Linked DNA regions of Homo sapiens: regions 1, 3 and 4 are each linked to region 2. Evidence: fine-mapped expression QTL. A gene starts in region 2. Each other region holds a variant in brackets. All regions are shown on one strand. Distances are from middle to middle. Region 1 overlaps LOC105370246 (a long non-coding RNA gene). Region 2 holds the start of PCDH9 (protocadherin 9). Region 3 has its middle 750 kb from the start of LINC02342. Region 4 overlaps PCDH9 (protocadherin 9).

Evidence for each region. PIP is the estimated chance that this variant, and not a neighbour inherited with it, causes the effect. A credible set is the group of variants that fine-mapping cannot tell apart.
Region 1: its variant is the best candidate, but not a certain one, in a credible set for the expression of PCDH9 in nasal epithelium (TOPMed, PIP 0.51).
Region 3: its variant is the best candidate, but not a certain one, in a credible set for the expression of PCDH9 in thyroid (GTEx, PIP 0.51).
Region 4: its variant is the best candidate, but not a certain one, in a credible set for the expression of PCDH9 in prefrontal cortex (BrainSeq, PIP 0.78).

What each region holds. Positions count from the first base shown.
Region 1 is chr13:67,254,036-67,259,191 of GRCh38, forward strand. It overlaps LOC105370246 (a long non-coding RNA gene), which reads right to left. Exons shown (of 3, transcript XR_002957498.1): 3 at 2,559-2,841. Among named protein-coding and RNA genes, the nearest start is that of PCDH9, 26 kb to the left of the region's middle. RefSeq lists an enhancer at 4,353-5,117. The variant A/G (reference allele first, on the strand shown) is at 2,866.
Region 2 is chr13:67,228,115-67,233,270 of GRCh38, forward strand. PCDH9 (protocadherin 9) reads right to left here and starts at 2,222. Exons shown (of 5, transcript NM_203487.3): 1 at 1,666-2,222; 2 at 1-461. The coding sequence starts at 326. RefSeq lists a silencer at 2,493-2,632.
Region 3 is chr13:68,130,208-68,135,363 of GRCh38, forward strand. No RefSeq gene overlaps it. Among named protein-coding and RNA genes, the nearest start is that of LINC02342, 750 kb to the right of the region's middle. The variant T/C (reference allele first, on the strand shown) is at 3,134.
Region 4 is chr13:66,905,067-66,910,222 of GRCh38, forward strand. The region is part of intron 2 of PCDH9 (protocadherin 9); the gene reads right to left. The region is part of intron 4 of PCDH9-AS2 (PCDH9 antisense RNA 2); the gene reads left to right. Among named protein-coding and RNA genes, the nearest start is that of PCDH9-AS3, 70 kb to the right of the region's middle. The variant C/A (reference allele first, on the strand shown) is at 3,033.

The DNA.
Region 1 (5,156 bases), 26 kb after region 2:
GGCTGACATCCAGCAAGGAAACAGAGACTTCAATTTCACAACAACAAAAAACTGAATTCTGCCCATAACAGGAATAGGCTCAGAGAGCACCTTGAACCACTAGAGGAGAATGCAGTCCAAGCCAGAGCAAAGATCCTGGCCACACCATCTTGAGCTATGAGCTAAGAAACAGGTGTTGTTTAAAGTCACAAAATTTGATTCGTTATGCTGCAGTATAAAACACACACAGGCCCAATGTGTCCATAGTGCCAAGTCTGAGAAACACTAGCTAAAGCATTCTGGTCTAGCACTTCTCAAATTACTATTAAAGGGATGTTACTAGGTAGTTTTCAAAGAAACAATGAAGAAAATCTTCCCCTGAGGATAAACATTTATTTAACTCAGATCAAGTTAAAGATGTTTTGTTACTGTGGGACATTTTAGAAACTTTAATATCCTGGTTATGTTATGAAGCTACAGGAGAGGAGTTGATTATAAAGCAATTCCAAAGCGCATTTGAATAAAGATCTGCTATTCTGGGAAAATGGATTAATGTATTTTGATTCCAAAATCAATTAATATCTTTTGATTTGATTAGGATCAAATTTAGTCAAATGTACAAATGAAACAAACAAACAAAAAAAGAAATCAATTTCATGGCTCATCTTCCTAATTTCAAACTAAATCAGATGTACCAAAAAAATATGGATACCCTTTGTAATTTAGACTATTACAACAATAACAACAATGTTTTTGTTTGTTTGTTCGTTTGTTTGTTGAGACAGGGTCTCTCTCTGTCACCCAGGCTGGAGTAAAATGGTGCAATCATAGCTTACTGTGACCTTGAACTCCTGAGCTCAAGTGATCCTCCTGCCTTAGCTTCCCAAGTAGCTGAGATGACAGGTGTGCACCACAAAGCCCATCTAATATATTATATATATTTTGTAGAGATGAGGTCTCGCTGTGTTGCCCAGGCTGGTCTTGAACTTCTGGACTCAAGTGATCCACCTTAGCCTCCCAAACTATCAGGATTATAGTTGTGAATCACCACGCCTGGCAACAATAATGCTTCTTGATCATGTATTATTACAGAGGTCTTCAAATAGTGTACAGCATATCGGGAAGTTCAAATCTGCAAAGATACAGTATGTATATTTCAATTATTTGTGCAGGAGAGATGCTAGGGCTGAGGGAAATGCATGTTAGACATTACATCGCATTCTACTTTCACTAGCTCTGCTACTGTCTTCTTTCCACGGTCGTCTTCTGGTCACTTTTAAAGCATCTCCATAGACCTGGAAGAAACTTTATTTTCTCTTTTTCTTGCAACACCCACAGATTATCATTCTGTTAATAATGCTAGCACATGGAGACGGGGAGGGGAGGTGTGGTAAAGGGATCTTCTACCTTTCTTCAGACTTCCTGAGTGCGCACTATCATTCTGTGAGTTTCAAAATGCCCTCATCCATATTTTCTACTGTGGTTTGGACACTCGCTTTGGCTGCACTGATATTTGTGATTGCTACAAACTACTGGACACCATTTCTGTCTGTTTTTACTTCCAGGCTCCACATTGCTTGCAGTAGTATCAGTTTCTCCCAGCCCAGTATCCACCCCTATATGTGGCTCTACGTTCAGCGATAGCCAACCTTTAATATATATTACACTACAGATAGTAACCAGTCACTGCTGATGAGATTCAAACTATGAGAAGGCATTTTTTGAACAATGACAATAACCCTAGCGATACTTTAAGGGAAAACAATTAAATCTCCACCAAAAAAAGGTTTCAAGTATCTGTTAGTTAAATAGCTGCTATGTCTGACTTAGTAGAAAAATTATATTAACAATGTCAATGCCCTCTATTGGTTTTCCACTAAATATAGCTAACATATTTAACTGTTATTATTCCAAAATGCTTGTTTTTAGCTTATCTCAAAACCATTTTAGAGAAGGATTGTTTATATCTATTTTATACAGAGAACAACTTTAACATGTAGTATAATCGATTCTTTAGATTAGAAATCATTTTTATTCTATGCTTTACTCGCTGGGGATTAATCTTCATGTGATCAGAATGAGCCTGCTATTTAAATACTGAATTACACCTACTAAATTGAGAATAATTGCTTTCTACCTGGCATTAAAGGACTTCCGTAACAGTCCCAACCAGCCCTTTACAATCTAATCTCCCATTACCACCCTACACAGGTGGTATACTCTAGCGAAAATAAATTTGTCACCATTTTACATTCTTGTTATACTCACTAAAACATTTACGTTTATTGCTCTTTTACTCAGAAAGACTTTGATTGAGGATATCCTAGCTTGTGTTACAGCAACAGATAGCTCCAAAATTGAAGTGACGTAACCCACCAAGTGTCTATTTCTTGCAAATACTTTACGATTAATGCAGGTCATGGAGGGGTAGAGGGGTTGTGGGATTACTGTGATTCACAAGATCTCTGAGACAGGCTGACAGAGACTGCAAATTTAATTTCTTCACATTTATTTAGCAATAAAATGGAAAAAAGAATGTCTACTTTTGCAAGTCTGTCATGAAGATTAAATATGGAAAACACTGTTTGGATATCCCAAAGATAACATTCCTTCTCTCTTTTCCACTGAGCACCTGTAAGAAACAAATTTCACCTCCCATTTGGACTATAGTTATGTTTTTGCCTGCTAAATGTTAAGTGCTTGAGGACAAAGCATATGTCTTTTTTATTCTTGTATCTGCTTAATTGTCCAGATGTTGCCAGTAGACTTTTGGTAATACTTGTCGAATGTAGAGAACTCATAATTCTCCAATACTGGAATGGCTTTCTAAGTGTTCTCTGCAATCCTTGCTCTGTATTTAATCTGAATAGAAATAGAAATAAAAAT[A/G]AAATATTGAGTGTTTTAGTTTTAAAGAGTCATATAAGATAAATGCATAACTAATTTTAGCTTTAAGTTTTTCCTCCTACAAACCTTTATGAAAGTTTATAAACTGAGAAACTTTTTTCCAAGAAGTATGGATCCCAGCATATAGTAGTTGCTTAATGCATATTTATGAATGAAGTCTGATGCACTTGCAGAGAAACTATACAAGTCTAGAGATATTAATTATACATCTATAAAATATAAATTAATACAGGCTTTTGTCAAGAGATTTTTCTCTGAGTATCCTAAAAGAAATATTTCATAATCTTGAAGTCAACATTCTTAAGCCACATATGTTTTGAAGTAATTTAGTAATGTTAGGATTTTTATTCTTTTTCTTGATATTTAATAGGCACTTTTATAAGGGGGAGAAGAATTGTTAGAAAGTCATACTTCTACAAACGTTATTTTCAGTCTTTGCATGACTTATTGAGGTGTCTGGCTTATGGAATGCATTTGGGCTCCATTCCTTACTCCATCAATGACTGCATAATTGAAAAATAAAAATATGAAAATGCTCACTTGTTCTGATACAGGGTCTCTTTTGTAACATGTAAGAAAAAATTTGTATAAAATATGTAAGTTCTCTGAAATGCAAAGTACAAGCTGTTATTGCTATGCTATTATTTTTACAAATTAGTTTCCTTCATCAATAGTCATGTATAGAACTGGATTAATACTAGTAGACACACTCTTAAATAGAAGGAATATATTATCAATAAGGTTATTTCATCTAAAAACACAATGAAAGATTCTCAACTATGTGGGAATTTACACACATACTATTATTCAAGTGTGTTGGGAGAAAAATCTTACTCTACTAAATACATTCAGGAACATTTTAGGATGAGATACATGTTTTGAGAATACATTCATATCTGAAATATGCATTTTTCTTATAAATTCCTTTCTTCTTGATATTCTAGGTGTCAACCAATTTTTCACTGGATTTTCAACCCATAAAAAGAAGCTGTAAATTTCAGAAAAACGAGAGTGTAATTTCAAGACAAATACATCACAAAAGTATGAATAAGAAAGAAATGTGTTGTTTCAGCTAGGCAGGTATTCCTGTTAATTTATGGAGCCGTTTGTCCTGCTTGTAAAATTCCATTTTTTATGGAATAGAGAATTATTGCTGCTGTAAGATGTAACAAAATGGCTAAATGCCTGAGGGAAATACAATAAGGACATTTGGGTTAGGAATATAATAATATTCAAAATATTTCACTGGGAAGTTAGAAAAAGTTATCCCAGTTTTCTTTTAATAAATTGAAGCAGAATGCTAATTTAAAGCTAAATAAATATAACAATCTGAATGCTGCCATGCACACCAATATAATTTATTTAAAAGATTTGCCAAATGTATATAACAATGATTAAAACCATTAATGTATGTATGTATGTATGTAACAATAATTAAAACCATTAATGAAATTCCATGATTTTTTTTTGTCTTGAATATTATATCCATTTGTCTAATTTGGACTAAATATTAAATATTCCAGTCATTTTAGCTTGCTACATAAAATTAAACAAATAGAGATGGGAATGTCGAGGAAAGAAGATATATACTGTACAGTGCTGGCTGTCCCTAACTACTCATTCTGCCTTTCATTTTTACTAACTGAAACCCAGTTCTGTGTGGTTTAGTGTTGTTCCCAGCTAACCACTTGATTTCCCCAGCTGCTGCCCATCTAGGTGTGGCCTAATGACACATTTCTGGCCAATAAGATGTAAGTAGAACAATGTTGGGCAAGGCACCCAGGAGAGCTGTGTATTCTTGGATTAAAAGAGACAGATTTAGCTGCCATTCCCTTTACTTCCCCTTTCCACTTTTATCTTGTGGAATGTCTTTGTGATGCATAGGAGTGCAGATGCCATGTTGCAATTGAGGATAAAAGTCACATTTCAAAGATTGCAGGCCCCATAGGTAGATGGTGCCTGAAGCATCAAAGACATCTTAAGGCCACTGCCATAGTACTGGGTTTCTTATTATATGGCGAAAATAAATCACTTTTGCAATCTTGTTGTATTTTTTCCCCTTCTACAAGTGTTGAACACAAGAAAAAAAGAAAGGGAAGAGGAAGAGGAGAGATGACAGTAAATCTATGTTGTTTAGAAAGATGAAATGGGAGATTTTAAAGTAGGCAAATAATTATAAATCCTATCTTCAGTCTCCAAAAATGACTTCAAGAGTTCTAGTTATAACATAATCACTTTCTGGAGTCTAGGTGTTACCAGGAAGGGGTCTCGAT
Region 2 (5,156 bases):
CACTCATTCTCCTCAGCATATGAGGCGCCAGCACAGAGTTTTTCTCTGTCTATTCTGTTGGAGGTTGTGAAAATTTCCCCAGTGCTGCTGGAAACTTTCACCAAAGGGGCATCCCCAGCTTTAGAAACCAGTCTGTAGACAAGGCTGGCGCTGGTCCCTGTGGCAGCATTGATGTGAGAAATGTTCAGATCCTTTGGTATGTTTCCTATGGGCACATTTTCAGGCAATTCCTCTCTAATAGTGTAAATAAGTTCTTGAGCTATTGCGGAATCCAGCCTTAAACAGGCAATCAGAGCAGCCAACAGGTAAAAATCCCTCAGGTCCATGATAATGTATTTATTTTCTTTTCCTGGATTTTAGGGTTTAAAGGTTTCCACTGAGGAATGATGCACAAATTGCAAGAGGAAGCGTGCATGGACTGGAGGATGCATTATATCTCATCACTTATTTGGAGACAGCCGCTGTCAACACAATTGTATAGACAATATTATTCTTCAGTAAATAAAAACACACCGTCACAAAATATCACCACACATTTTCCCCTGAACATTAGTAAACATGGCAGTTTGCTCTGCCACTGTTTGCAAGTTTACTCTGTGGAGAAAAACACTAAATATCTCCTGCTGGTTGCATTTGCCGGGAGAAAATAAAATTTTCTACTTTTGAATTAAGGACAGCTGCTATTTTTACCTATATTCACGCACGTTGTTTTTCAGAATACTGTTTAATTCAAAACATGCATTCTTGTTCTCCTCTTCCCCTCCCCCTGTCTCACCCTCCTCCTAGCCTCTAACCTACCTCCCTCAGTCTTTTCAGGTGCAAGTGAAAAACACTAAGTATTTAGCTACGGTTCCTGCTAATTGCTTTGTCACATGTCAAATGTGTTTTCTTCTCTGCCCCACTGAGTCACCTATCTTTTCTAAAAAGGCTATCTTTTTCTTTCCTCCCAGTTCTTCAACTGCCTTCTAATACAATCTTACTGGGAAACGAGCATCCGGACATGCCGCTGCAGCGGCATCAGAAGCAATAGTCACCGGCCTCTACACATCCTCATTGCCTAAAAGCACAACAACAAGACTTCAGATTTCTTGCCCACAGCTTGCTCTCCTTTCTCCATATTGACAAATTATCCTCATTAGGATTCATAAACACATTAAAACTTTTAAAAATGTATAATAATATAGGATTCATTTTCCTAGAGGTGGAAGAGAGTGCCGAGATATAAGTGAAACGCAGCTAACATTCCCATGTAACATCACAATATTTTCTACTGAACATAAAAGAGAAAAAAAATGCAATTTCTTAATCCTGATCTCTGGTTAGAATATTAGTAACATTTGCCACACATAAATACTGCAACCCAATCATGCAGGTAAAAAGGCTTCTGCTTAGATAACTGCAGTTTAAATGGGTGCAAGGCTCCAGGCAGCTACCTACTTGAGTAGGACTGGTCAGTTCTCAGGCTCTAATCTTATCTGCATTAGGCTGCACAGTAGCTGATGCCCGCGATTAGTTCCGGCAGAGTGATGCAGGTAGGGATGCAGATACAGCCGAGTAGGTGAGCTCTGCCCCAACCGTCTACCCAATTACAAGCATCTTTCGCCTACACTGAGGACACATCTAAACACAGAATTTACAATTGTGCATGCGAAACTTTACACTTACGTTAGTTGCCTCAACCTTTCCCCTTTCCCAGTATGCTGCAGTTAGGAATGATTTGTTCCAACACATAGAAAGCCATGCATCTGGTAGCACCAGTTTGGGGAGAAATCAGAAGCAGCAAAATGTTTCCTCCTTGTAAAATGTGTTGCTTCGGGCTGGCAAATTAGCAACTCCAGAGAACAAATTCACGGATTTGTCGTTAGTCATTCTCTCCACATTTCGTCTCTCTTACCCACTGGGTCTGGGTTCTTCTGGGCATTTAGCACACACAACACATAGTTGCACTTCTTCAGCTCAGGGATATTTTCCACAGCAGCATGCATACCATTTCCATCCGATGCCAATACTGCTTAAGTCTCTAACTTCTTGTAGGAAACGTCAGAGTTGCGGTGATGATGATTCTCTGACAGCTATCCGGGTGACAGTTGCCCGAAAAATTCCTAATCGGTTATCTCTTGCGTGCTTCAGAGACTCTGAGGCGCTCCTTTCCGTCTCGCGTGCTCTCCCTCTCTCCCTTCCCCTCTGCCCCTCTCTCCTTCTCCCTCTCCTCTCTCTGAACTGAATTTCTTGATATAACTCTCAATAAGCCCAGAGGGAGGGCGTGACTGCCCAGGCCCCGCCCCCGGGCTCTGATTGGCCTGCATCTTGCGGCGCGGGCGGCCGCAGCCCGGCGCGAGGGAGGGAGCGCGGAACAAGGCGCTGACTGTCTCCCAGCCTCCCCTCCTCCGCGCCCCCTCGGCAGCAGCGAAAACCCGGAAATCTGATCCTGGCCCCAGGAGAGCCGGGTTCCATGAGGTGCACTGAGCATGCTCTGCAGGGTCCGGCGTGGGAGGGACGCGCTGGCGCTCCCCAGGCCCGGGCGGAAGCGGCGCTCGCAGGCGCTGAAAGCGAGCGACCCTCTGAGCCCGGGTGGTCCGGCGGGCAAGGGCGGCGCGGGAGACCCGCAGGGCGCGGGCGCGGATCCGGGGAACCAGGGCCACCGCTGCGGGCGGATGGGGGTCACCGAGGCGGCTCGTCTCCAGGCGCACACTTCGCACATCTCTTTGCTAAGTGAAGGGGCCAAAATGCACAGATGGGGGAGTCTACCCAGGAACAGAGGCGCGAGACGTATAGCCACCCCTGGGTTGGGAGCACGAGCCAGCAGATCCCCGGAGCGCGTTAAACGGACAACATGCCCGGTGCTGCAAATAGAGGCTTTTGCTGGCAGGGACATTGGAAAGAAGGGCGGAGAGGGAGTACAGCGAAAGGTGGGGACCGCAGAATTTGGAATCTCTGCGGAGACCGGAAAGAAAATTAATCGGAGCACTTCCTACATGCAGAGCCACGGAAACTGCCTTGGAAAGAGAAAGTGGCAGCGTCTGGGTCCCCTCGGTCAGCCCGGGCCAGTCGGCTGCGCGTGCGAAGTCTCCTCTAGCGGAGCGGGACCGGCCGCGGCGGTGGATCGTGGCGGTCCCTGCACTTCTGCTCCAGCCGCGCCTGGAAACCTGAGCCCGGACTCGCGGCTGCTGCAAAACCCGCTTCCAGCCCACCTCACTGCGAACTTTGCTTCCGAGGGGCTGGAAGGAGTCCCAGGCAGCTGTTTCCCAAGCTGTGGAACACTTCCTTTCCCCTAGGCACTTTCTGCTGATTCCAACTTTCTTTCCTGTGATTTTCGTCTTTTCCCGTGCATTTCATTTCTCCGACTCCAGCTCTGTACTAAATCCTCACAAGTTTCTCGTTTTCATACGGGAACTGGATGGAATGACTCCCCAAAAAATACAGCTTTATTTCTCAAATACTGACCCCCAAAGCACTATCTAGTAATATATTTGATTGATCTTTCAAAGTCAGTAAACCACAAAGGTTTGTGTAATGGCTTGTACTTAACGCCTGATACCTGAGTAAAGTTTGAAGCATTAACATAGGAACAGTTCACTTGGAACAAAAATTTATTTTCTGAATGACCTATAAAGGTTGTCAGAGAAGGTCTTAGTACATGATTGAATAACTTGGTCTAACTTACAGGAAGAATAAAGGGCATTTATTTTAAACCTGTGTGTTCCCCATTCTATAATGGGCTGCCTAGGCATTAAAGGCTCTTGACATACTTAAGCTCTTGACTGAGGGCGTGTTGGAGATTACCCCTTGTTTTTGAGTACAATAGTTTTGTTTGCTTTTTTTCTTTTTTAAGTAACATTTGTTTTTAGACGTTTAAATGAAAAGTAAAAAAAAAAAAAAACACCAATCAAGCTTACTAAGCCATATATTGAATAAATAATGACATGATTTAACCAACTAATTTGACATCACAATTTTCCAACATGAAATTGTAAGCTCTTTTTAATTCAAACTTTTCTGAGTTAATATTCACAGTTCAACTGCAGTGTCTAAAAGCCCACTGTAAAATCCATTAATCCCTTATATGTAAAATATAAAATACTTTCCTTGCAGATAATAGACTGATATTTTTTAAATAGCAAAGCAACTTTTATTATAGTAATATTTTGTATGATTAGAATATATAAAATTCAAGAATAGAAAGGACTTACAAGTATCCCAAAGTGAAAAGAAAAATATTGCCTCACAGAATAATGTCAGTGAATGAAAGGATGATTCTTTTATCTTACCACAGTAAACGATCATTTTGCCATTCACAAAATCTACAATTAAAGCTAGTACATTGTTCCAATTGTCACCTATTTTATGCACTGCACTGTTTTTAAATAAATGAACCATCATTGTGATACATTTACAATAAACATAGCAGCACAGCCACTTTCCAGTTCATTTCATAAGCACCACAGTTATATCATATTCTTATTCTAATCATACCGTAGTCATTTCAAAGTCATGTTGTAGTCGCAACACATAGCTTAGCAATAATTATTTAACATCATTATTAAACGGAGTTGTTTCTCTTTGCTAAGGATAGCTTCACGTGTTGGCAGAACCCATTATTACCTCCTGCTCATAAATGAAATCTTAGTTTGAACACAAGATGAAGGTTAGAGAAGAGAAAAAAAAAATCATCACATGATTCAATTAATGACTATGAGACTTCAATTAAAGAAAACCACAGGTCAAAGCCCCAGAATGAAATATGTCTAGATTCTTTTCAAAGGAGATGGAGTTTCAGAGACAAATAGAGCTATGGACTCAGGGCATTATATCCTTTAGGTGTTTATTTGGCATTATCTGAACGACTGAGATTCCTTAATGTTCTCAGTTTTACCTCTTAAATCTAGAATAGTTGAGGCTGGTTTGCCCTATAATAATCCGACTTCTAAACTCTAAAATGAGAACTATTATTAGAGATCTTATTAATATTCCTAGAGGAAAATTAAATATAAAGGGTCATATTCCTAACCCTGTGTTATCACAACTTAAGGTTTCTTCCCAAAACACTATATAAATCATTTTCATAATGAGAGCTGTTCATAATCTACCTCTCCAATATTAATTTTTTAAGTTAGGTCTGTGTAATTATGAATCAGGAAAATATTCTTAATTTCAGT
Region 3 (5,156 bases), 900 kb after region 2:
GTATGGGTTTAAATTTCAAAGCAGGGTGTGATCTGGGACCAGGAAACATTGCCTGGTCTGTGAAGTTGGAGACAGTAGTCTTATTGACGACCCAGGATTCTAATATTTACATTTTCAAAATGATTCTCTCTGAAGGGAATGGGGGACAGCTGCCTCTATTTCCTGAAAAAATGTCCAGTTTTTTTTTTGTGTGTGTGGTGCTTCACCTACAATACAGATGCTGTGTATGTAGAGTGACATCTGGTTTTCATTGTGTTACTCCAGTGGTAAAAATTGGGGCATAGAAGAAACATGTAGATATTATTTGCTATAAATAATAATAATGATAATGTTTTTGGCTTCAGAAACTTTGTATATGTACTTAAGAAAATGTTAATAAATAGATGTTAAAAATCTAATAGTGTAAAAATGTCCTTTACATGAAATGAGAAATTATGTTCTTGAAACACAGCATTATACTGACTAGTTTTATTACATTGCGTAGATTTTTCTTTTAAATTTCACCTATCTTGGGCTTTAGCTACTTCCTAAGATGGACATTTTTACAACGCTATTGTTAGGGTTAAATTAAAAACGTTGTCTAAAATGCTGTCATAGTTTCTAAGGAGCTATTTGGAGGAAAGGATAGACAGATAATAAGTTGAAATTATTTGGTAATTTATTTTAAAATCTCCAAAAGGGCTAATAGGGTTAAATAAAATATTTGAGGTTTGCTCTTTTTTCCACTTGTCCTTGCTTAAAGATATAAATTCCCTAAGTTGGAGTGCATTTGAAACTGCGGGATGATTGCCAAGCAAAAAGCATGAACATGATAAGAAATCAATAAATGGCTCAGTGTGTTATATATCATGATGTGATGAGCAGTTGAGAAAGGAAGAAACAAGAAAGTAAATAATGATGGGTTTCAAATGATATGACGTTTGAGCAGAGTGTTAGGAAAAGTCAGGTGCAGACGACTGTTAGAAAAAAGCATTAATTAAGAGATATAGAGTTGTATTAGTCAGCTCTCGCATAGCTATAAAGAAATAACTGAGACTGGGTAATTTATTTAAAAAAATTAGAGAAGGTTAATTGGCTCACAGTTCTGTAGGCTGTACAGGAAGCATGGAGGCATCTGCTTCTGGGGAGGATTCATGGATCTTTTAATCATGGCGGAAGGCAAAGGGGGAGTGAGGCATCTTAAGTGGCAGGAGCAGGAGGAAGAGTGGGGGAGGTGCCACACACTTTTAAATGACCAGAGTTCATGGGAACTCACTCACTGTCACAGAGGGAAATCTGCCCCCATGATTGAATCACCTCCTACCAGGCCCCACCACCAACACTGGGGATTACAATTCGACGTAGATTTGGGCAGGGACATAGACCAAACCAAATCAGGAACAGATTGCTACTATGTCATTCAATTCTGAGGAACCTCATAAGAAGTACTTATTCTTGGCAGCATTATGATGATTTTAGTAGTGAAGATACTTTATGTTGATGAAGAAGCATTAAAAAATGAATTTGTTTGCAACTGAGATGTATAAAAATAGAATGTGGAAAAGTAAAGCAAATATACCAATAATTTGAGAGATAAATGTTTCTTCCATCATGTAGACATTTCACAAACACATAAAATTATCTGATCGTTCTCTTTTTTCTTTTCTTTTCTTTTTTTTTTTTTTTTTTGACAGGAGTTTCACTCTTGTTGCGCAGGCTGGAGTACAATGGCGCGTTCTTGGCTCACTGCAACCTCTGCCTCCCAGGTTCAAGCAATTCTCCTGCCTCAATCTCCTGAGTAAATGGTATTATAGGTTCCTGCCATCATGCCTGCCTAACTTTTTGTATTTTTAGTAGAGACAGGGTTTCACCGTGTTGGCTGGGCTGGTCTTGAACTGCTGACCTCAGGTGATCTAGCTGCCTCAGCCTCCCAAAGTGCTGGGATTACAGGCGTGAGCCACAGAGCCCTGGATATTTTTTTGTTTTGTTTTGTTGGGTTGTGTTTTGTATTTTACTTGATTTACATGACCTCTTTTCTTTTTTTTCTTTTTTTTTTTTTCACTTTTATTGTAATTCTCCTAAGGGAAGATAGTATCCTGGGAAGCAATTCATGCAAAATGAAAGATGATTAATGCTGTTTAATTTTAAATAGAAATAGTAAGGTTTCAAGAGTGATAGAAGAGCTACACTAATATTCTTAAAGCTACACTAATGTTCTTAAATATATCCACTCCCTCACCCACACAGACTCACAATCATAAACACACAATGAATAATGCCTTAAAAATTACTAGTATGTCCCCATTTGTTCATCTGTTGAAATACAAAGAAAATGTCTATTAGGGCTTTTTCCATTTATATTACAGTATGAATAAATAAATGATTTGAAAATAAGAGAAAGGAGAGAATAAGAACTCACCTGGTAAACCAAGACATCAGCCCATCGAGGACTGCTAAGAAAATGGGTGATTTGGAGACTTGAATCCAATGTCTGATAATTTTTTTGTATATATCTAGGTTCTATCTAATATTTTCTGCAATCGCAAAGGCTACATATTGGATTATACCTATTGTGTATAGGAGAGAACCCCAAGATTAGATATTTAGGATTTTCTTTATGGAAACATTTTAGAGAAATGTGCTGAGTTTTTGCCTACTAAAACTTAATCCTTATCCACAGAAACATTCCATAGTAATTTCCCTTGAAATCAAAACACTTTAGATTGATTGCCAACTTCTCTGTTGTGCTTGTACCAGTACTTACAGTGTTCATCTGCTCAAAGCAGTGATACATTTGGGACAAAGTCCTTAGGACCTAAACTTCCAGGATGACTGTTCTTTGGGGATCCATACTCTTGTTTGTCAGATTCTTAATTGCTTTTATCGGAGTGGCTTCTCTTTATTCTTAGACTGGGGGTTTCTTGGTGATTTATTGATTTCAGTATCTTACCAAAAAAATCTGGTTTAAAAATATTCTGAGAGAACTCTGTCATGAAATCACAATATATATCATGACATGATTAAAAACAACTGGGCAAGGTATACTTGGATGCAACTATGATTTGATGTAATAATAAGGTCAACAAATGGGAATCATGTATTGAATAAGTGCTATCTGTCATGCTATATATATATACATATATATATACATATC[T/C]GTAATCATTATCATCCAAATACTTTAAAATATTTGTATTCTTATCCTAATTTAGAAGTAAGAAAACTGAGTTCTGAGGAGCTTATCTAGGATGATACAGTTAGTAAATAATGAAGGTAAAGTTTTATTTCAGGTATTTCTAGTTCCAAGCCTACAGTATTTTCCGAACACTATGCTGCCATTTCATGCTCGAATTATAGCGTAAATGGGTGATGATGGTTTAATTTTCCCTTCCCACGATTAACAAATTATTGTACAATATTTCTCTAAAAAATAATTTAAGAACTTATACATTGCTTATAAAAATTATGTATGAAAAATTGCATCATGGAATGCAAAAATAGAACTGAAATACTTTATTTTCTGTCATAAACTGAAATAAAAGCAATTGTTCTGCAATACAACAAATGGAAACCATTTTTGACATATCAGGTTATTTTTCTTGTTATTAGAAAATGAGTCCTTTTTTTAAAAAAAAAATCACTGATTTTGTGAAAGAGTTTTTATTAGTAACATATGTTTCTCAGAATGGAAATATAATTGTATACTTTGTACTGTAGAAACTGCATTTATTCAGTTTAGCATCCATAAGAACTGCCAAAGATTCCTTTTTTAAAAATATTTGGAGCTGCAATATCAGGCCCATTAAAATATACAAGAAGATACCTTTTTAAAAAAGCATTACTCCTGCTTAGAGAAGGAATTTCAAACCTGGGAGACATAGGGGCCCTGCAGATTTCAAAAGAAAAGCATCCTGTTTAGAGAGGTTTGTATCCTCACTTTTCTTCCTTGTAGCAGCATTTATCCAAAGAATTAAAGACCAAGAGCCATAGCCTTGCAGCTATTATGCAGTCACTCCTCCTGGTCAGCAGCAGCATGTTTGATTATATGCTATGGCTTCCAGCGGGATCTTTCAGTAACTGAAAAGCCATGCTCAGATGCTGATTATTCACCATAAACTTTTTTTTTTTTTTTAACTGAGTGATTAGGGAAAAAGAAAAATAATGAACAAAAAGGGAGAGTGAAGAGGACAGGAGTAAAAGAGCAAAAAGAAGAAAATGTGTTTGGCTCCACAGTTGTGCTTGGTGAAGCTTTCTTTTCCCCAAATACTCAGCTGCCCATCGGGGTTGGTTAATATTTTTAGCGGGAAGTACAACATCAGTTATTGATTTAATTAAAGGACAGTTGAGATAAAGTTAGTTTGTGCAGGAGGAAAAAAAAAGTCACAGGAGAGATTCAGCTAAAGTGAAAATATGTGTCAGAGAGACCACAAAAGAGAATCTGCAAAGGAGGTAGATAGAAGACTGTTTAAAATGGGGAGCTGGTGGATTAAGTGAGAATTCATACTCATTGCACAGTTGGCTGATATCTTAAGTGTTTTATAACTTAAGAAGAAAAACTTTTAGTAAGCGTAATAGACAATTTTTCCCCATTGGTGGTGTGTCACCACTCCTTTACGTTAGACTGCTTACTAAGAAATGTAATTCTTCTTTCGTTTTCTTCTTCAAGGACACAGAGATCGTGGCTACTGCATTATGAGGTTATAAAATACCAATGACATACTATAACATAAATTTATATGATGGAGGAACTATTATTCTCTTAATACAAAATAATTCAAATGAAGATTTGCATTCTTGTGTGATATGGCATAAGTTAAATGTTTAAGACAACATAGTGACAGACTTAAATAGTTATCTTCTGTTAGAAAGCCACATTTTTAATTCTGTGACTTGGGAGAGGTGATTTGATGTTTTTTAAAAAGTCACATAATTGAAAAAGAAAGCTTTTAGTCAGACTGGCATTTATTCAAATCATAGCTCTACTACTTATTATTTGTGATCATGGTCAAATTACTCCTACTCTAGTTTAAATTTATCTTAAGATGGATATTAAATAGAACCTATCCCTTAGGGTCATTTTGAGAGATAAATGAGATGATGCTTATAAAGCAGTTTGCACAGAGGCTGGCGAGAAGAAGATATGCATAACTAAATATCTATCATCATAATTTCCATTAATA
Region 4 (5,156 bases), 320 kb before region 2:
CATGTGTAATTTGTAAAATGTTCCCTTGTAATGTTAATTATTTGAATGTTCCTAAGTTTTTTGTCTGAACAAATTCACTGTTAGCAACAAAGGCTTCACAGCAGCTTTTTTGGCATTCAAGAAAAAAAAAAGCATAGACCTTAAAACAGTTATTTTCATCTGTGATGTCCATAGACATTTTAATTATTCAATTCCTATCCCTAGCCTCTCCACATATCTATTCATGCTGATTAATCTTTTTAAAAGGTTTCATGTATCATATAGTTTTTCTCCTAAGAAACATTTCCTAAATTTCTCTGGCCCAGCAGTGAGTCTCACCCTGACTGTATATTAGAATCACCTGGGGAGATTTTTAAAAATGTCAATGACTGAGTCCCACCTCACATCAGTTAAATTGAAGCTCAGACATAAATATTTTTAAAATATTCAGACAATTCTAATGTGTAGCCAGAGTTTAGAATCCTTGGGTTAAGGTTAAAACTTCCTTGTCTAGCCCTCAGGAAGCTAGAGTAAATTTTGGCCTCACTCCGATTTCAATCTGATATCTTGCTCCATAGAATTTTTTCTTCCTTTTTAAAATTTAACCCATCATATTGTTTTTTTCCCCCATGGATATATCATAAAAGTGTCTGAACCTGAAAAAAAAATCCTATATTTGTATAATACTTTATGCTTTAAATACAAGAACTTATGTATTATCTACAAGGAACCTCTGTAGACTGGTAGAAAACATAATCCATCCTATAACAGATTAGGAAGACACAGGTTCAGGTATATTCAGTGCCATTTGCTGAAGGATTTGCCCTGTAAAAGCAGGACAAGTGTTCACTCTATTTTGGGCAATTTCTACTGTACCATATCTCCCTTAATGGGTTCATCTATAACTCATTCATTCACTCATTTTATTCTGTTTGTTTGTTTGATAATCAGACTTTTACTGAGTGCATGTTATGTGTCAGAATTGTACTGGATCATCAAGATATGGCATTTAATATCTGTAATACTCTCACTCTAGCCCTGAAACAATACATGAAAATAAATAACCACCATGATGAGTGAACATGCCACCTGAAAATGTATGCAGACTGCTAAGGGACAGAGAAGAGCATGCATAGACTCCCAGATTTGATACATGAATAGAGAGTCTCGAGAGGTGGACTGATGAGGGAATCATGGTTAGCACACATTTGAGACAGAAGGAACTGCATATGCAAAGGTGAGAAAACATGAATTCTCATGAGCCATGAGTAATTTGATAATAGTTCAAACATGAAGAATGTGAGGATTGATTTCAGAACAGACAGAAACTATCAGTGCATTAATTCAATAGCACAACATATAGTGAGAAGTTATAGAATTGGACTTAATATAAGGGCCAACAGTGCCAAGAGTGAGCTTTAAAGGTCATTCTTTTTCTTCCAACTTTTCCAAGAAAATATGCAACATAACAAAATGAGCGCATTTGGAATATCATTGTGATGCCCAGTTAAGTCCTTCCATCCCTAAAAGATCTCACCCCCAAGCCTCTCCTGTGTTTCATTCTGGAGCAGCTCCTGTTTTTGGAACAGTGAATGGCATGAAAGGAAAATTTCTAACTTACTGTTCTTTCCTTACTTTTTAAAATTGAGTCTTTTGAGGTAAATTTCTTCTGCAAATTAATATATAACTCAGAGCAAAATAAAAGAAAAAAGTAACACTGTAAACAATATTTTGAGATTAACTATTATAAATACCCAAACTTTTAAGAAAAAAAATTCTTACAGGAAAAAATTTAATCACTATGAATCCTCCCTAACAAATTTCTACTTCCGGGAGAGTTGCAGCATTTTCTAAAAAAAGATTTATTTTAAAAGTCTCGGCTGGGCGCAGTGGCTCACGCCTGTAATCCCAGCACTTTGGGAGGCCGAGGTGGGCGGATCACCTGTGGTCAGGAGTTTGAGACCAGCCTGGTCAACATGGCAAAACCCCGTCTACTGAAAATATAAAAATTAGCTGGATGTGGTGGTGCATGCCTGTAATCCCAGCTACTTGGGAGTCTGAGGCACGAGAATAGCTTGAGCTCGAGAGCTGGAGGTTGCAGTGAGCTGAGACTGCACCACTGCACTCCAGCCTGGGCGACAGAACGAGATTCTGCCTCAAAAAGAAAAAAATAAAATAAAAAACTCTCAAGGTTCATCCCACCAAAAAATTTTACTGTTTGCCCAATTTAATATAAATAACTGCGTATTGAATTATGGGTAAGATGCATTTGCTAAATCAGATTTATATTGGGGGGTACATATGTAAATCAAACTTGAGAAGTCTAAAGCTCAATAACAACAATCATATTCAATGAAAATCACTGAAAGTACATTTGTTTTATACTTTAAGACCAGTTTGCTATTTTTCATCACCTATGATTGAAAGTCTGTATTGCAATATGTGGATAAATCATGCCACTCCAAAACATCCATTGTAGTTCCTGGGAAAATTATCATTCACTACCTATAGACATATCTGCTCAAAGTTTTCACATAATCAGGTATTTTTACTCTTTCATTTTTGAAATAAATTTTCAAAAAAGCACTTCTAGCCATATTAAGAGAAAAATAATCAACAGTAGCAAGAACAACAAAAGTTTTATGGAAGATCTTTTTATGAAAAACACAGCTGTTTTCTTTGCTAAATAGGGGGTTCTTTACATTTTCAACTCAATGGTAATGCAGTAGCAATGCTTAGTATTATTTATTATTCTATTACTACTCCTACCTTCTTACAAAATCAAGATTGTTTACTAAAAATCAATAGCACTTTCATAGAAGTTTTGCAGTCATTATAGAGGCAATAGTTTTGTACTTTTGTGCTATAGGTTTCATTAAATAACAATTCCATTTATTTAAAAACTCCCACTGAAAACGTTATTCCTACCCATTTTAAAAAACTAAGGATCCTTTTCATGAAGAATTCTAAAACAGAACATTTGTTTAATAATTCCAAAGAAATTTATGTTTGCAGAAATGAATCTACTTTAAATAATTGTCTAAACTTGGTAT[C/A]TTCAACTTCTCTCTATGCATTTCTTTAGAGATCCACATGTATTAGGTTTCAAGCACGCCCATTCCACTGAAATGGCCCTGCTACCATCACCTATGGTTTTCACGTTACTAATGCAAATGGCAGTTCTCAGTTCTTATCTAATGCAACACAACTAAGTACTACCTCTTCTTGTTTCATTTATGTACTGGCCTTCAAGGATGCTATACACTCATGGCTTTCTTTCTTCTCCTGCTCTCTCTCTGGAATCATTTAACTGTTCGTGTTGTTGTCAAAACTGAAAGGACTAGAGAGGATAAAACTGAGTACTTCCTCAGAAAGTGTTTTCTTCAGTGGAGTCTGTTTAAGCAATTACACCCATATTGAACAGGTTCTGTTTCCAAAATATTTTCTCAGACACAGGAACAATCTTCTATTCATAAGATAAGAAAAGATCTCTTAGAACACCCCCAATCATTATTTCATCAAAGCACATATCTTTATACTTACATCTAGAAACTAATAAAATTTATATTTTAAGTGACCAACAGTATAGATTCTTATTATTTCTGAAAATTTGTTCTGATCATTTAGTATCCTGAAATTTATTCTGGCCCAAATAAGGAAACCTTGAGCCTATACTCACAGCCTTTTCTTTAATGTTTTCTATGTACCTTCTTTTTTTGCTTATTTTTGTTATCTTTAATCATAACTAGAAAATGGAGCTAAAATGCTCATCAAACTTTATTGAACAAATCAGTGTTCAGGTGCAGTGACACATATTTTGATTTAAAATGAAAATGTCGTATGATAAATTTTAAAACCAAATGTTATATAAATGCAATCATATCATAGAATTGTAGATGGCTATAATACACATTAATTTAAAAACAGGGATTGCTTATGTGAAATAAGAAAAATAGGCAGACCCTAAAATGATATGAAGGAAATGTTACCTGTATCTATAGTATACAGAGTCTGTTTTTTTTTAATTGCTTTTTTGAGTCTCTTCTTTAAATTTTTTTCTTTAAAACTTTGAGACATAAATCAATGCACAAAAATCAGTAGCATTTCTACACAACAATAAATATTAGTCAAGCACCAAAACAAGAAGTTAATCCCACTTACAATAACTACAAAAAAGACTTATGAATATATTTTACCAAGGAGTTGAAAGATCTTTACAAGAAAAACTACAAAACCCTGATTAAAAAAAATCATAGATTGCACAAATGGAAAAATATCCCATGTTCATAGATTGGAAGGATTAATGTTGTTAAAATGACTATACCGCCCAAAGCAATCTATGGATTCAGTGCAATCCCTATCAAAATGCCAGCATCCTTTTTCACAGAATTACAAAAAAAAAAACATATCCTTTTAAAAAAACACATGTTGAAAATCCATTTAGAGGCCAGGCACAGTGGCTCACGCCTGTAATCCCAGCACTTTGGGAGGCCCAGGCAGGCGGATCACGAGGTCAGGAGATGGAGACCATCCTGGCTAACATGGTGAAACCCCATCTCTACTGAAAATACAAAAAATTAGCCGGGCGTGGTGGCGGGCGCCTGTAGTCCCAGCTACTAGGGAGGCTGAGGCAGGAGAATGGCGTGAACCTGGGAGGCGGAGCTTGCAGTGCGCTGAGCATTTGGCTTAGTCATCATGCTTTCTTCCTCCAACTGAACTCTTGGCAGTTCATGACAAGGAGTAACTTTGTCACAGTAATATATTAACTAACTAGGTAAACTTGAATTTATCCATTGCACAAACAAATAAGCTTATGTTCAACTTCGGGACCCTGACACATGTTCCTACCCAGTGGATTTTGCAAAGTTCACCTTTTCAGTTCTTCTAGGGGCAGCAGAGCTTCTTCAACCCCACTGCAAGTTGACTGACACCCTTCAATACTCTCTTGACCCTACAGATAATGCTCATCAATTCCTCTATGTAAGTCCTCTTCTGTCCTCACAATTCCCATTCCAGATCTTTCCACCTAGAGATACCCTTTTGTCTTCCTTCTTGATGTCTCAAAGGTAGGAAAAGTCCTCTCTTCTCCCTCAAAAGCACTTCCTTTCTCCTTTGTTCCAACAAGCCATTTTATTTTTTAACCAGGTTTGCAGAGGGTCCAGCCAGATGGAGGTAGTCAC